Homo sapiens: one gene and its partner. The protein of the gene in region 1 interacts with the protein of each later gene in a pairwise test. Each region holds a gene or a part of one and is shown in the gene's direction. Other genes may lie near its edges. The genes, in order: C18orf32 and SMO.

Region 1 (3,812 bases):
CCACTGCACCTGGCCTATTTCTTTACCTTGTAGATAGCAGCTTTTTATTTAATAAAGTCTTTTTTTTTTAGCAAATATAATAGTATGTTTTAAGTTTTTCCTACACTGTAGAAATAGTCCTTTCGTGTGTGTGTGTGTGTGTGTGTGTGTGTGTGTGTATATATATATATATATATATTTTTTTTTTTTCTTTTTTTGAGACAAAGTGTCTCTGTGTCATCCAGGCTGGAGAGCAGTGGCATGAACACGGCTCACTGCAGCCTCAACCTCCTGGGCTCTAGTGATCCTCTTGTCCCAGCCACTTATGTAGCTGGGACCACAGGAGTATGCCACCATGCCCAGCTAATTTTTTGATCTTGTAGAGACAAGGTCTCACTTTGTTGTGCAAGTTGGTTTCAAACTCCTGGGCTCAAGCTATCCTCTTGCCTCCCAAAGTGCTGGGATTACAGGCGTGAGCCACCACATCTATCCCCTTTCAGATATCTTAATCTTGGTAAATTCTTTCAGTTACTAATCTGTGATGAACTAATTTTTTTCTTCACATATATCAACAGTTGAGGAGCTCAAGCTTGGGAAAATGGTGTGCATTCCTTGTATCGTCATTCCAGTTCTGCTCTGGATCTACAAAAAATTCCTGGAGCCATATATATACCCTCTGGTTTCCCCCTTCGTTAGTCGTATATGGCCTAAGAAAGCAATACAAGAATCCAATGATACAAACAAAGGCAAAGTAAACTTTAAGGTAAGAACATTCACATGCCTTGAATAAGAGCAGTGAAAGGGGGTGGTACTTGGGTGAAACACTAGATTTTGGAAGGACAAGTTTTAGAACCAGAAGCTTCAATAGTTTGTGTAACATTTGGCTTAAATTAAAGTTTTAAAGTAGGCCTCTGATTAATGCATTTGTCCTTTGGCCAAAATGATAACCATATTTTCTGACTGGTAAGTGCAATGGTAAATAGCTAATGGATGAGGAGAGATTATGCTGATACAAACCAGTTTCACTGATTGATGACTTTGATAAGAGATTTAATTAGAAGGATCATAGAGATTTAAAAAAAAAACAATTTTTTTAAAAATGAGTGGACAACTCTGTTGTCTTTAGAATTGGTGCTTTTTTAGATTCAGCTTTGTACTCAGCTGCACTAATTTAGCCATCCGGCCCGTTTCTGGAAGCAAAATGTTTTCACTCTGGAGCTTGTCTGTTTTTAAAGAGAATGTTTCTTGAGCTGGGCGCGGTAGCTCACGCCTGTAATCCCAGCACTTGGGGAGGTCAAGATGGGTTGATCACCTGAGGTCAGGAGTTTGAGACCAGCCTGACCAACATGGTGAAATCCTGTTTCTACTAAAAATACCAAAATTAGTGAGGCGCGGTGGTGGGCACCTGTAATCTCAGCTACTCAGGAGGCTGAGGTGGGAGAATTGCTTGAACCTGGGTGGCAGAGGTTTCAGTGAGCCGAGATCACATCATTGCACTCCAGCCTGGGTGACAAGAATGAAACTCCATCTCAAAAAAAAAAAAAAAGAGAGAGACAGAATGTCTCTTAATATCTTTTTGTTGTAATAATTTCTTTCTTTTTTTTTTTTTGTTTTTGTTTTTGTGATGAAGTCTCGCTTTGTCACCAGGCTAGAGTGCAGTGGCATAATCTTGGCTCACCACAACTTCCGTCTCCCAGGTTCAAACGATTCTCCTGCCTCAGCCTCCTGAGTAGCTGGGATTATAGGCACATGCTACCATACCCAGCTAATTTTTGTATTTTTAGTAGGGACGGGGTTTCACCATGTCAGCCAGGATGGTCTCGATCTTCTGACCTCGTGATCTGCCTGCCTCAGCCTCCCAAAGTGCTGGGATTACAGGCATAAGCCACCGCACCCGGCTTGTTATGATAATTTCTAAAATGTTTTTTCATTTTAGGGTGCAGACATGAATGGATTACCAACAAAAGGACCAACAGAAATCTGTGATAAAAAGAAAGACTAAAGAAATTTTCCTAAAGGACCCCATCATTTAAAAAATGGACCTGATAATATGAAGCATCTTCCTTGTAATTGTCTCTGACCTTTTTATCTGAGACCGGAATTCAGGATAGGAGTCTAGATATTTACCTGATACTAATCAGGAAATATATGATATCCGTATTTAAAATGTAGTTAGTTATATTTAATGACCTCATTCCTAAGTTCCTTTTTCGTTAATGTAGCTTTCATTTCTGTTATTGCTGTTTGAATAATATGATTAAATAGAAGGTTTGTGCCAGTAGACATTATGTTACTAAATCAGCACTTTAAAATCTTTGGTTCTCTAATTCATATGAATTTGCTGTTTGCTCTAATTTCTTTGGGCTCTTCTAATTTGAGTGGAGTACAATTTTGTTGTGAAACAGTCCAGTGAAACTGTGCAGGGAAATGAAGGTAGAATTTTGGGAGGTAATAATGATGTGAAACATAAAGATTTAATAATTACTGTCCAACACAGTGGAGCAGCTTGTCCACAAATATAGTAATTACTATTTATTGCTCTAAGGAAGATTAAAAAAAGATAGGGAAAAGGGGGAAACTTCTTTGAAAAATGAAACATCTGTTACATTAATGTCTAATTATAAAATTTTAATCCTTACTGCATTTCTTCTGTTCCTACAAATGTATTAAACATTCAGTTTAACTGGTAGTTCATTTTCTTTTAAAGTCTATTGAAATATTCAAAAGGGAAATTTTTCACCACGTCAGAAGGCAGAATTTGGATGTTGTGATGGCATCTGTGTAGTGGTGGGACAACAATTACTATTGTTGCGTAACAAGACACTCCAAAATTTAGTGGTTTTCAGCAGCAGTGACTCGACTGGGCAGTTCTTTGCTGTTCTGGGCTCACTCATATGGCTGGCTGGGCCTGGGTCTGGACCTGGGCCGCTATGTGATTTTTATCTTGGGCTTTGAAAATTCAGTGTAGGGACCTATAAATATTCAAAGATGATGAGATGCATCCTTATATATTTTTTGTATTCACTCTGAAGCTGGGAAAGATTAAAAGGAACTCCTGCCCTTGGGTCCCTAATGAAGTCTGGGTCCTAACTCAGGCTCTATTAAGTTCTGTGGCTGGTCAAGTCACTGATTTACCTTGGGCTTTATTTGATATAAATCATGTAAATCAGCAGGTCTCAGCTTTTCTGTCCAAAGCCACCTGAGGGATAAGATAAATTCTCATTAGCAAATAAACTTTTTTAAGGTATAAATACTATTATAAAAATAACAGATATTTACAGTACAACAATGCAAGAGGATCCTAAATGAAAAGCGAATGTTTTTTCTCAACTCTCATTCCCTTATTCCAGCTCCACAGAGGTAACCAATTGTTTTTTTGTTGTTGTTGTTGTATGGTTTGTTTTTGTTAGACAGTAGTCTTTTCCTGAACAGTGCTGCTCCTTGTGGAGCAAGGCTAATTCATAGGCAGTGCATCCAGAGTCCGCCCCAGTTGATTTTGTGTGTAACCTTCTAGCAACTTTTTGAAAATTAATTTGTTCTTAAATATGCACATCATTTTTATTTATTTATGTTTTTGAGACAGGGTCTCACTCTGTCACTCAAGCTGGAGTGCAGCAGCATGATCACGGCTCTCTATGGCCTCGACCTGCAGTCCTGAAGTGATCCTCTCACCTTAGCCTCTCAAGTAGCTGGGACTACAGGTGCACACCACCATGCCCAGCTAATGTTTTTTGTAATTTTTTTTATAGAGACAGGGTTTCGTCATGTTGCCTGGGCTGATCTCGATCTCCTGGGCTCAAGCGATCCTCCACTTTGGCTTCCCAAAGTGCTGG
Region 2 (3,912 bases), on another chromosome or scaffold:
CTCGTGAGAACTCACTCATTATCGTGAGAGCAGCACGAGGAGGATGGTGCTAAACCATTCATGAGAAACTGCCTCCGTGATCCAGTTACCTCCCACCAGGCCTCACCTCCAACACTGAGGATTACAATTCAACATGAGATTGGGTGGGGATGCAGATCCAAACCATATCACCTAATATTAACCAGTAAAGATTAATATCATTCCCCTAGTCAAAACTTTGAGATTTCCTTACTATCAAGAGAATTGACCCTTAATTCTGTGTGTTATTTGAGGCTTCTTACCAATCAGTTTCCCTACTTATCTATGTCCTTATTCTAACTCCTCCTACTCACACTTTAGTCCTGGATTCAAAACCCACCTCCTCCACTTCTATCCACACTGACCTCTGTCCCCTATTCCTATAGCATACTCACGGTACATCTCATTTTGGCAGCTTATTTATCAAGTGATTACTATGTATGCTCAAGTGAACTAGATGTTTTGTGAACACTAAGAGAATGAGATAAGGTCCCTGACCTGAAGGAGGGAACGTTGCTGTTCTGTCATGCTATGTTTCCTGAGAGCAAGCCATGTATCCACAGGAAAATGGAAGTCTACAGGTTCCTCCAGGATGTCTCTGTGCTATGTACATGCTGGAATTTCAGAAAGACTTGCTAAATTGAATTAAATTCTCTCTCTCTCTCCAATTGATATAGTTGAAGTGCAATAACTAATATGCACTTAAACTGTCCAAAGTAACAGAACTAGTCCACTACCGCTAGGCCATGAGCAAGTCTTCCAGGGGTAAGAAAGGAAAACCCACCCTGGTGTGCAGCCCGATCAGCAACAAGGAAAAAGTTGCTCAGTGCAAGTCTACTCTCCTGTTTGGAGCCTTGTGGTTATGCTGGGTTATACTTGGTTGTGCAGGTGTAAACTGCTGAAGTGGGAAATTAAGTGTGGTGACCAAAAGTGTGATGCTCAAAGGAGTGAGGAAAGGCAAAATGAGCAGAGTGGGGAAGAGGAGCAGCAGAAACCTCCCAGAGCAGATGAGCAGCAGGGCCATCAAAGAAGGACTGGTTTCCTTCTCACATAACCAAGGCCAGTCCCTGGGAACCACAGTTCAGACTTCACATATTTGTAGCAGTAAAGGCTTGATGTTGGCAAGTTTATTTCCCAGACACCTGTTCCCGCAGGTAACAGCAGCCAGAGCAGCTGCCGTGAGTGACTCTGAGGTCGTCTCTCTCAAAGGTCCCGAGCTGGAAGGATTTGGAGAAGCGCAAACCCCAAACCCAGGTTCTTCTCCATGGGGCCCCGGGATACGTTGGAAAATCTAACCAAAGCAGGAAAAACTGGCGGGCCTGGAGAACGGGGCAGAGATGGAACAGAAGTCCCCGTTGACTTCAGGCATCCCCTGTCTTTCCCATCCTGAGCCAGGAGAAAAGTCCGCTTCCTGCAGACGACCTCAGACCAAGCAAGGTGCCCGCCGAGTCTCTCCTTGCAGGTCCGGCCCACGATTTCCACTCATCTCTTTCCCCCGGGCGCGGGGCGGCGGCAGGCGGGGTCACCAGATCCCCCTAGCCCGGGCCCCTCCAGGCGCCAGGGACGCTGACGCTCGCGCTCTTCCTCTCTCGCCTCCCCTCCCCACCTCTCCGCTCCTTCGTCCAGTCCCTCCCCCAGCCTCGGCGCAGGGGGGCCGGGCTTGGCTCCGCGAGGCCCGTGCATTCCAGAGAGCCCAGCGAGCTAGAGCAACAAAGGAGCCGGGTCGCCGGCGGGGAGAGTTCGGGGGGCTGCGGCGCGCTGGGGCGAAGGTGGCTGCTGGGCCGCGGGCTGGCGCGGGGGCGGAGCCGGAGCTGCACTCGCACCCCCGGCCCGCGTCTGGCCTCCCTCGCGGGGCGGGGAGGTGGCTTTAATGGTGGGAGAGGGAATGGGGCTGGGGATTGGGGGCCCAGGGGTCTCCTAGGGCTGAAGACAACTTGGATTGCGAGGCTAGGGCTTGGGGAGTCGTGCATCCCGTTCCGGGCCTCCGCAGCCCAACATGGGCCCCGGGTTCCAAAGTTTGCGAAGTTGGGCGCCGAGGGGCCGGGGCGCGCGGAGCGTCCGGGGGGGCCCGGGCCCGGATTCTCTGGGCGCACAGGTCGCCTGAGCCGCCTCCGCGGCCGCCGAGGTCGTGCGTGTGGCCGGGGGGCTCCGAGGAGCAGGCGGGGGCGCCGGGGCTTTTGCTGAGTTGGCGGGGTTGGCCATGGCCGCTGCCCGCCCAGCGCGGGGGCCGGAGCTCCCGCTCCTGGGGCTGCTGCTGCTGCTGCTGCTGGGGGACCCGGGCCGGGGGGCGGCCTCGAGCGGGAACGCGACCGGGCCTGGGCCTCGGAGCGCGGGCGGGAGCGCGAGGAGGAGCGCGGCGGTGACTGGCCCTCCGCCGCCGCTGAGCCACTGCGGCCGGGCTGCCCCCTGCGAGCCGCTGCGCTACAACGTGTGCCTGGGCTCGGTGCTGCCCTACGGGGCCACCTCCACACTGCTGGCCGGAGACTCGGACTCCCAGGAGGAAGCGCACGGCAAGCTCGTGCTCTGGTCGGGTAAGTGCGGCGGAGCCGGGTCTGGGGGGCGGGAGGTGCCGCGGTAAGATGGGGGCACCCTTGGAAAGAACAGGCTCAGGCCTGAGTTTTGGAGAGGGCGGGGACAGCACCCGGGAGAGTTGGAGGGACAGATCCCGAAACTTTGGGGGCAGGTTACGTGCAGGATGGGACCCTCGGTCATGGGAAAAGGAGGGCAAGGAAGTTGACGAAGCGGGTCACAAAGGGCCTGAGCTGGTGGGTGAGCAAAGGATGGCGGGGATGAGGGGCCCGTGAGGAGGTGGCTCTAAGCCACGGGAAAAGACATTTTGTAAGAAGAGGAGATGCTCCACCTATTCTGGAAGCAGGGTGCCGGGGGATTCAAGGAGGTGTTGAAGACCCTGGGGAAATTGGAGTTGGAGAGGAAAAGGGGAGGGATGACGGAGGAAGAGGTTTAGACATTTGGAGGGAAGGGTAGGGGGACATGATCGAGTGAAGTTTTGAAGGAAAAGAAACCTCCCTAGTGATGAATTATTAAAAGGTAACCAGAAAGTTCTGGAAATCTTGATTTGGGAGACAGGAATGAAGCCTAGAGAACTGTGATCTTGTCTGGCTTTCACGGGAGATTTCATTCAGTTTGTGCATCTGAAAAACCGGCCCTCTGACGCATGCAGGAGGTTATGAAGGAATAAGACCTTTCTAACAGTTATTTGTGTTTTCTTTGGAAATTTGGTTACCGAGGCTGGTCAGGGCTGTGGAAGGACGCTTAAGTCTGGAGTGTTGAGAGCCTGTGGACACTTCCATGGTGGTTTGAAGTCCCAAAGCCCCCTCACTGGAGTGGCAGAGTCTGAAAAACTGCACACTGAACCCAAATGTCCTTCCTTAGCAGTGTGGAGTATACTCTCCCCCACCTGTCACTTTTCTAGATGAGGCTTGGAGGGTGCTGAGGAAGGGAGCTGGCCTTATCAGCCCTCGCTTCTAGCCAGTATGATTCTAAAACTGTCCTGGGAAAAAGAAAAGAAAACCAGGAGCCAGGAGCAGAACTGGGAGCCTCCCTCTTTTGACAGGGCTGGGGTACCCCATCTCTTAGCTCTGCCCAGGGGGCTGGTGAGGACCCTAATGTAGGGAGTGTATGTAGGCCGCCTGTCATTGACAAGTTCTCGGCCTTTGTCAGATGTTGGACAAGGCCATAAGGTTCCTGGCTTGGTGCAGATGCTGGAGGAGGAACTTGGAGGATGGTATCCATGGTACCCATGAGGAAGAGCTGCATCCTTTTTGGGGATCAGGTTCTAAAGTCAGCACAGCACATTAGACAGAAATCATGTGTAAACAACAGTGGCTTTGAAAACTCTGCAGATTACCATAGTGTAAGGTGGATGTGGTTTTG

What was found.
Region 2: the proteins of C18orf32 (region 1) and SMO interact in a two-hybrid assay, tested with the Homo sapiens proteins (one large-scale study listed by BioGRID and IntAct).

Annotation. Positions count from the first base shown.
Region 1 is NC_000018.10:49,480,514-49,484,325, reverse strand, and holds part of C18orf32 (UPF0729 protein C18orf32), read left to right. Parts: intron 1-554; coding exon of another isoform or gene 555-577; coding exon 578-742; intron 743-1,915; coding exon 1,916-1,981; 3' UTR 1,982-3,812. Other genes in the region: RPL17-C18orf32 protein, read left to right, coding at 555-734. UniProt on the Homo sapiens protein: May activate the NF-kappa-B signaling pathway.
Region 2 is NC_000007.14:129,186,934-129,190,845, forward strand, and holds the start of SMO (protein smoothened precursor), read left to right. Parts: upstream 1-1,699; 5' UTR 1,700-2,218; coding exon 2,219-2,549; intron 2,550-3,912. UniProt on the Homo sapiens protein: G protein-coupled receptor which associates with the patched protein (PTCH) to transduce hedgehog protein signaling. Binding of sonic hedgehog (SHH) to its receptor patched prevents inhibition of smoothened (SMO) by patched.